Regions from separate parts of the Homo sapiens genome. Here region 2 is reported to be linked to region 1. Evidence: microRNA targets listed by miRTarBase, many of them from high-throughput screens and not tested one by one. Region 1 holds a microRNA gene; the other region holds the end of a gene's coding sequence.

Evidence for each region. The annotated mature microRNA hsa-miR-4741 reads CGGGCUGUCCGGAGGGGUCGGCU and lies in region 1 at 2,832-2,854, shown strand. An mRNA with a match to its seed (bases 2 to 7 or 8) in the 3' UTR can be bound and repressed. Matches are read on the target gene's strand: a 7mer-m8 pairs with bases 2 to 8, a 7mer-A1 pairs with bases 2 to 7 and ends in A, and an 8mer does both.
Region 2: the mRNA of ZSCAN25 is a reported target of hsa-miR-4741. Seed matches in the 3' UTR shown: 8mer at 3,094-3,101 and 7mer-A1 at 1,958-1,964.

The regions. Positions count from the first base shown.
Region 1 is chr18:22,930,576-22,934,966 of GRCh38, forward strand. MIR4741 (microRNA 4741) reads left to right here and starts at 2,774; the gene lies at 2,774-2,863. It overlaps RBBP8 (RB binding protein 8, endonuclease), which reads left to right and starts at 2,753. Exons shown (of 19, transcript NM_002894.3): 1 at 2,753-2,989. RBBP8-AS1 (RBBP8 antisense RNA 1) reads right to left here and starts at 3,189. Exons shown (of 5, transcript NR_198963.1): 1 at 3,013-3,189. RefSeq lists enhancers at 2,483-3,323, 3,007-3,136, 3,497-3,546 and a silencer at 2,797-2,876.
Region 2 is chr7:99,629,258-99,633,648 of GRCh38, reverse strand. ZSCAN25 (zinc finger and SCAN domain containing 25) reads right to left here. Exons shown (of 8, transcript NM_145115.3): 8 at 1,241-4,391. The coding sequence ends at 3,629. Among named protein-coding and RNA genes, the nearest start is that of ZSCAN25, 15 kb to the right of the region's middle. RefSeq lists an enhancer at 3,166-3,812.

The sequences.
Region 1 (4,391 bases):
ATTTCCATTGTTAAAGTGGCCATATAAAATCTCATTTAAAAATCTAAGAATTTTGAATGTACCCAAAGGTTTCCATTTACATAGAAATGGGATCCACCAGGGAATGCCCATTTCATTCATTCATAGAATATTGATTTGGTGGCAGACACTGGGCTAGTTCCTGGAGATAAAAGGGTGAACAAACCTTTTTTATTTTTTATTTTTTTAATTTTAAGACAGGGTCTCTCGCTCTGTCACCTAGGCTGGAGTACAGTGGCACAATCATAGTTCACTGCAGCCTTGAACTCCTGGGCTCAAGCAATCCTCCCACCTCAGCCTCCACAGTAACTAGAACTAGAGGCACGAACCACTGTGTCCAGCTATTTTGGTTTGATTTTTAGAATAGGAGACAAGATTTCACTATGTTGCCCAAGCTCATCTTGAACTCCTGGCCTCAAGTGATCCTCTTGCCTCAGCCACCCAAAGTCTGGCCCAAGACGTGGTTTTTTATCTCAAGAAATTTACAGTCCAGTGGGGAGACAGAATTAATTAAATAACTAAAACAATAAAAACTGTAAGATGGGGAGGTTACATGGTACTGTAGGAGGATCTAGTAGAAGAGACTATTGAAATAAGATAAAAACATGATTAGTAGATAGCTGGGGCAAAGAGTGGGGGTAGGTTTGGTGGAGAACTCCAGGCAGAGACAATAGCACGCAATGGCCTAGGAGACATCAAAAGTCTAGTGAGACCAGAGGACAGAAAATGTCTGGAAATAAAGCCAAAGGGGTAGCAGAGGCAATTCAAAGGGGCTTCCTTCACAGAGTAACTGGAAGCCACTGAAAGGGTTTAAGCAGCATAGTGACATTAACAGATTTACTTTTCAAGATCACAGTAGCTGCAGTATAGAGAAGTGGTCTCAAAGTAGACACAATTTAAGGTGGAGGAGGGAAGATGTATTTTTATTCTATTTTTTATCCTTTAAAAATGCTTTTAAAATGGATTATAATCATATTAGCTAAGAAATACTAATTATGGCTAGCTTTTGGGCACATAGTATATATCTGAATACTAAGCAGTTTACATATATTCATTTAATCTTAATACCCTGTGAGGTTGGTACTATTATTATCCTCAATTTACAGGTAGGTAAAATGGGACAGCGAGCTTAAGCAGTCAGTCCAAAGTCACTCAGTAAGGAAGTATTAGAGCAGGATTTAAACCCAGATGTCTGACTTCAGAGCCTGTAACTTCATTAGATCATGTACCATTTTTCAACAGTACATGTATGTAATTTAAAATTAAATATATATATGGAGAATAGAAGTTCAAATTTTTTTCTGAACACCAGTGAAAACAAAGATTTAGGAGGGGTGGTTGGTAGCGTGGATGTGGAAAGGAGCCTAGCAGTAGACTAGGTAAGAAATAACAGTATCTTGGATTATGGAGGTAGTGATGGAGAGAAGGGGATGGATTTACATGTTTAGTAAGTAAAATTGGACTGCGTGATGGCTTGGATATGGAAGTTAGGGATGAATAAAGTGTCAAGGATGACTCTTTGGTTTCTGACTTGCATAAATGGATTAGAGAGTGAGACACAGGCAGAGGCCATAGGAACAGGTTGGGTCATTCTGCTCAGTTTTTCTTTGGACCACAGTAGAGACCACAGCACACTGCTCTTTCAATACTCTGTTAAATGACAAACTTATTACAGGTTATTTCTGTCATAAACATAAAAGCTTCACTCTGTCAATTATGTTTCCTATCTTGCGTTAAAAATTACATAGTCAAAATTTCATCCATTTTCTTTTAAAAATGTGGAGTTAAGTCTTATAAAATGGGGAAGTGAATGATAGTTGCTGTAACAGGCTAATAGAAGGTTTAGCACCCCTCTTCTGTATACTAACTTTTTAAGTTATATTTATTCATCCCTTAAGATGTGGGACAGGTGGAAAAATTACCTTTCCACTTTGTATTTATGATTTCTAAGTACTAAACTTTTAAAGCCTGTTAATATTATCCCTTCCCAGGTCTTAGAATAATTACACAAAAGTACTGGACTGGTTTAAAAGATATTTGATTCTAGTCTATTTTGTTCATTTGTAGAATTTCTAGTGGTCTAAAAACGATTCTTTTACAAATCAGGAGAAATAGGAATACCTACTATCGGTTTGAATCTCAAACGAACAGCCACAAGAAAAATGGACTTTTTAAAAAAAATTATCTAACAGCATGTTGTCCCAATAAATAATGCTGAAGGAGATTCCTTCTCGTTTCAAATTTGCCAGAAACTTCCCGTTTAACCTCAGCAAAATACAGATCGTTTTGATCTATGGCGTTACCGCACAACCCTGTCAGGTCACATCACTAAACTGCAGATAACAGCGACAAGGCCGAAAACTATGTTAGACGGATCCGCGTCCATACCCCCCATCAGTTAATTTTAACTCTTCATTCGGTACAGGTCACTCTACACATGCTTCCCTGCAAAATGCTTAAGCTAGACACAGTGTACAGATAACTTTCACAGAACCGCAAGGGCTTGATGCTCCCCCAACAGAACGGCTTGAGCTTTCCCCAGCGCAATTCAGAAATGCTGTGGCGGTCGCCAGACTCTTCGGGTAGCTCCCGGCAGCTCCGAGGTAGCGCTCCCCTCCCCAACCATCGCCCTCCGGGATGGGCCGCACCGAAGAGCCCGCTCCTCAGCTAGGGCACGAAGTGCGCCGCCGCGATGGGCAGCTGGAGGAAGGGGCGTGACGCAAGTGGAACTCCCGCGTGACGTCGCGCGGGCTCCCGGGCGGGGCGGGTCCGGCCGCCTCCGAGCCCGGCCGGCAGCCCCCGGCCTTAAAGCGCGGGCTGTCCGGAGGGGTCGGCTTTCCCACCGAGGATTTGGCACTCTGGTGAGGGAAAAGGGCGAAAGAGAAAAGCGAGCAGCCGTCCTTTCACAGCCTCAGAAAGTGCTCGCTTCCCTTCGGGGGCTTTCGCGAATCCCGAGGCAATCTCGGAGGCGGTGAGTAAAAGCAATCTCTTTACCCCACCCGGAGCTCTGGGTCGGAGCGACTGCTTCTGGTCTGGAGCTGCGTGCTTGGCGAAGGGCTCCCGGGGTAGGGGTGGCTCCCGGCTCTGGGGTTGTGTCTGATGAAATAGGCCGGGCCCGGGCTACACTCGGTGGTGGTGGACCGGCGGGAGGACGAGCGCTACCTCAGTACTACTTCTGGGTCTCCCGCGCGGGCTGAGGAAGCGCCTTTCGCCGCCAAGCCCGCCCCGCGCATGCGCCGACTGCGGCTCGCGCGCGCGCTTCGGAGGTTTTTTGGCCAGACCCGCACGCGGAACCGGCGCGGGCACCTGGGGAGAAATGGATGGAGAAGGGACCTGGCTGGAAAGCCTTTGCCCCGCTGCTCTGCTCCGCCCATAAGAGGACCCCTGAAATGTCCCGTGCAGTTTGTTCAAGTCCCCTGTGTGATGAAATGTGCCTCTCGCCTTACCCGTGTGAGAATACCTGTGGTGTGGCAGCGAGTATTTTGGTGAGCACCTGCAGTGTAGTGGTTTATACTAAGGAATACACACAAATTACAGGCCTTTGAGCCCAGAATGCAACTTGGGAGGTAAGACGTGACGTTCTGAGAGATTGAAAAATGTACATTGTCGTCGTGCCTCGAATAACGGTTCATTGCAGAGAGAGATGCTAACAAAAAGTGCCGGGCATGCGGGTAGGTGGAAAGGGTTTTGCGAGCCAGAATTTGCAAGTTGAATGTTTTGTTTTTATGTTTTGTTTTTAAGGCACTGTACATCACTTACTTGAAGATAGATACGTAAAGGATGCTTATTTTACACTCTTTAAACGAATATGTTAATACTTTTTCGGTCATTGAAGTAATTAAACCTTCATTTTAAACTGTTGACTTAATAGAAATCGTTTATGTCTTCTTTTTTTTTCTTTTTGCTGCAGAGAGGTATTTTTTCTTTATTTTATTATTATTTTTTATACTTTAAGTTCTAGGGTACATATGCACGACGTGCAGGTTTGTTACATATGCATACATGTGCCATGTTGGTGTGCTGCACCCATTAACTCGTCATTTACTTTAGGTATATCTCCTAATCCTATCCCTCCCCCCACCCCACGGCAGGCCCCGGTGTGTGACGTTCCCCTTCCTGTGTCCAGGTGTTCTCATTGTTCAGTTCCCACCTATGATTGAGAACATGCGGGCTACAGAGAGGTATTTTACAGTTATTGGTCTCATGACTTGATTTCCATCCCTGACATAGCCATGTCCCAGCTGTGTGACCTTGGACATTTACTGCCTTACGCCTCTTCCCCCAACTCTAAAATGAAATTATAGTAGCTGTCTTACAGAGTTTTTCTGAAGGTTAGGTAGAATATAAATATTCTATAATATATAATTATATAT
Region 2 (4,391 bases), not on the chromosome of region 1:
GGCTGCAGTGAACTACAATTGCACCACTGCATTCCAGCCTGGGTGACAGAGCAAGACTCTGTCTCAAAAAAACCAATAAAAGCAAAAAGCTATGAATGCATTGATTTCTACAGACTTGACTGCCTTTACAGGAAGCAAAAAGTAACTAGCTCATTATTCTGAAAACAGGCAAATAAAGAGGAGGATCAAGCATTTTCTTGCCTTCCCTGTATGAACTATATCTAAGGGTAACCTAAGTTAATGAAGGGAAATTTCTTACAATATTCCAACTACTAAATGATGAAGCATTTACAGAACTAACGAAAGAAGCAGATCTAGGCTTCTAAAATCATATGAAGAGAAACAGGGCATGTCACAATCTATAATGTGTTCTTGCCAAAATGTGAAATATGAATCTGATTACACCACTAAACACTTCTACATTTTTAGATAATACAGAAGGCAGGGAAATATGTTAAATCACGCCATGGGTATGCAAACAGAAAATGCAGAATGATTAGCTGGGCATGGTGGCACATGCCTGTAATCCCAGCTACTTGGGAGGCTGAGGCAGGAGAATCGCTTGAACCCGGGACAGGGAGGTTGCGGTGAGCTGAGACTGTGCCACTGCACTCCAGCCTGGGCAACAGAGCGAGACTCCAGCTCAAAAAAAAAAAAAACAACAGAAAATGCAGAATGTAAAAAACTCTCCAGGATAAATGATCGAGTTTTTTAAAATGAATAAATCTCAAGAAGAAAAGGATAAGTACTACAGATTATAAGCCTTAAGAGACAAAGCAACAAATTATATTATATTGAAAAATTAGGTGGGTTCTTAAAATTCACTGGATATTTTGACATTAAGGAACTGTTTTGTTTTGAGACAGGGTCTTGCTCTGTCTCCCAGGCTGGAGTGCAATGGCACAATCAGGGCTCACTGCAACCTCAACCTCTTGGGGTCAAGTGATGCCCAGCCTCAGCCTCCTGAATAGCTGGGACCACAGGCATGCACCACCCATGCCCAGTTAATATTTGTTTGTAGATGAGGTCTCACTATGTTGCTCAGGCTGGTCTCGAACTCCTCTCAAGCAATCCCACCTTGGCCTCCCAAAGTGGTGGGATCACAGGTGTAAGCCACCACACCCAGCCGCCCTTACCTTTTACAGGTACACACTGAAATGGTTATAAACAACACTTGGGATACACTTCGAAACTTCAGTGGGGGAGGAAGACGGGGAGGAAGGAGTGGACAGAGATGAAACAAGATTGATTATGAGTTTATAATAAAGTCAAATGATAAATACATAAGGATTTATTTATATAGGTTTGAAATTATCTATTATAAAAAAATTTCTAAAGAATAGAAAAATACAGAAAACAAAATATTTCTTAACATTTGAATAGATATGAAAAATCAGACTACCACAATCCCATGGGAAAAACCCCCTACTTAGAGGCTTTTCTGAGACACTGTCCTAAGCTCTTGGCCCCACAGGAGATAGGGAAGAGGCCAGATAGGAAAGTCAGCAAGGCCCAGCTCCTTCTGAAGCTTAAGATATGCCAACTTGCTGAAACCCAGAGGAATGCTGGCTGTGTATGACAAAAGAGCATCTGTGATTCAGGTAATGACAAGCAGCCCCCCGAGGCCTCCCCAGTCCCCACCTGCCTTTGGAAAACCACCCTCTGGGGAAGGCCACACTCAGGCCAGAAGCCTCCCACTGAGTCTGCCTGGCTGTCAGCCCTGCCTAGCTGCTCTGATAATTACGGGGGAAAAAAAGCTGATTTTGCATGTGGACCTCAGTATTACAGAGGAGCAGCAGCAGCCCCGTGTGGACATCTCAGATACATTTACGACCCAGTCAGTGCAGCCTCGTGGGCACAGCTAATGAGCCAGGAAGACCAAGGAGCGTCATTTGCTAAGCCAAAATTAGACACCATGCTGCCTAACAAGAACAGGTGATAAAACCACGTTTCAAAGTGGGCTGAGTAATACAGCTTTGTGTTAGTCATTACCATTTACCTTATTTACAATGGAAAATGAAAAAAAAAAATCTCAGTAAAAGAATCTGGTATTAAGAGGCATCAGAAGACAAACCACATTTTGCAATTATAGGACACTATCAACAAAGGACAAACTCACTCACTCAGCCAGGGTTCAAAGGCACAGCACAATGACACAGCAGTCAGTCCACGCTAGTTATGCAGCTTCCAGAACTTTAAACAGAAATGAAACCCTTAAGTGATGGCACAATAAGGAAGCTTCAACAGTTTACAAATATTGCATCTTCTCATTTTTAAAGAAATGTATTTTTTTTTAATGCCTACAAATATCTTTATTTTTCCTGACTTGGCACTCATGCAAAACAGGTCGCTACCAGCTCATCATCCCCAGTGGGTGTCCAGGACCCCTAGTGCCTTGGATGACAAGGGTCTGGAGGGCAGAGACCATTTAGTAACAAGAGGTAGGTGACAAATGCATTTCAGGGCAAGATGCTGACAAAGCAATGAATACAGGCCCAGAGGATTTGCAGGAATATCCACGGGTTCTGAAGATCAGGTACATCCACGAGACATAAGCTCTACGAGGTCAACAGCTTCTCCCCCTATTTTATTCATGGATGTGTCTCAAGCACCCAGAAGAGTTCCTGACATGTTTGTTACAGGGCCTCAATAAATACTTGGGAAATGGGTCCAATGAGAATGGGGTGAAATTAATTTTATGAACTATAAAGTGCCATCAAATATAGGGCATTAATACTAGAGTTCATCTTTCAGACTCATTTTAATTATAACAGTTCTTTCTAGAGAACTGTTTTTTAAAATACTCTGATGTTTATTCAGTGATCAATAGCAAAATACTAACTTCCTAATAGTTGGTGTGTTGACAGTTGTTATAGTGCAAGGAATAATGGACGGGGAAGTTTTACAGATGAGGATAGAATGTTATAGCCTGACACAGATGAGGCTCCAAATAATGTAAAATTCACACAGTTGCCTGGGAGCAGATCCCAGCTGGGGAGGGAAGATCCAGCACGGGGCAGGAGGGCAGGAGTGGTCATGGGAAGATGTTCTCACGGGCACACAGCACAGATACCCTGAGAATGCCTCGGGTCATGGGCTGTCGCATGCATCCCCAACGCACAACCCCCAGAGGCATCACGTCTAGTCTCTCATTCACCACGGCATTCCCACGGCCAGGTGCTCAGAGGATGTTCAATAAATGTTTGTTCAATGGAAAAGAGAGGGGGTGGGGGAAGAGTCTGAGCTATGACCCTGCAGGCAAGACAGAGCCCTCAGGAAGATGAGGTCCCAGCTACCAACACGTGTCAAGGTTTTGCCTTTACTCCCAGCTTTGTTCGGCAGGGGGACACAGACAGTCCACTGAAGGAGAAAATCTCAGCCTGAACTGAACCGCAGGAGACTGCTTCCCTCAAACATTGGAAGAAAAATTGTTTAGCACCACTTGGGTAAGAGATGGAAGCAGCTATGCTCTCTGGAAGCTCTAAGTAAGCCAGGCCTTGCCTTTCCCGCGTTGGCGAATGGGTGGGAAGGCGATGGGACCAGTGCTTTCCTGCAGCCATCACCTTGCACCCCGCAAGGCCCTGCAGTGAGAAAGATGAATGATGGTGCTGCCTGCCACCTGCTATGCTCACTGCACCAGCGGCTCCTGGCGGTGCTGGGTCTTCTGGTGCCGGTTGAGGATGGACCTCTGGTTGAAGCTTCGCCCGCAGGCAGGACAGTGGTAGGGCTTCTCCCCTGTATGGATTCTCTGGTGTCGGACCAGCCGCTCCCCTTTGCTGAACCGCTTCCCGCACACCTGGCACCCATATGGCTTCTCGCCAGTGTGGGCACGCCGGTGCACCGCCAGATTGGCATTCCTGCTGAAGCTCTTGCCACACTCGCAGGTGTAGGGCTTCTCCCCGGTGTGCGTCCTCCGGTGCACCTGCAGGTGCTGCCTGCGGCTGAAGCTCTTCCAGCAGTCCCCGCACTTGTAGGGCTTCTCCCCAGTGTGGCTGCGCTGGTGCACCTCCAGGTGGTGTCTCTGGCTGAAGGTTTTCCAGCACTCGCTGCACACGTAGGGCCTCTTTCCCAGGTGGGTTCTCTGGTGCTTCATCAGGTATTCTCTCAGGGTAAAGCCCTTCCCACACTCCACACAGCCATAAGACTTCTCTTCGTGGGTTCGCTGGTGCCTGACGAGATTGGAGCTCCGACTGAATCCTTTCCCACACTCAGGGCACTGGAAAGGCTTCCAGAAGGAGCTGTGGGTTTTGACTTCGTCAGGCAGGGGGATGGCACCGTGCTGGGGAGGAGGAAGCCCAGGCGCACTGCCTGCAGGGCCACCAGGCTCCTGCTCACAGACCCTTCCGAGCCCAGGGCCCTGGAGAGAGGCTTCCCCAAACCTCTCTGATGTC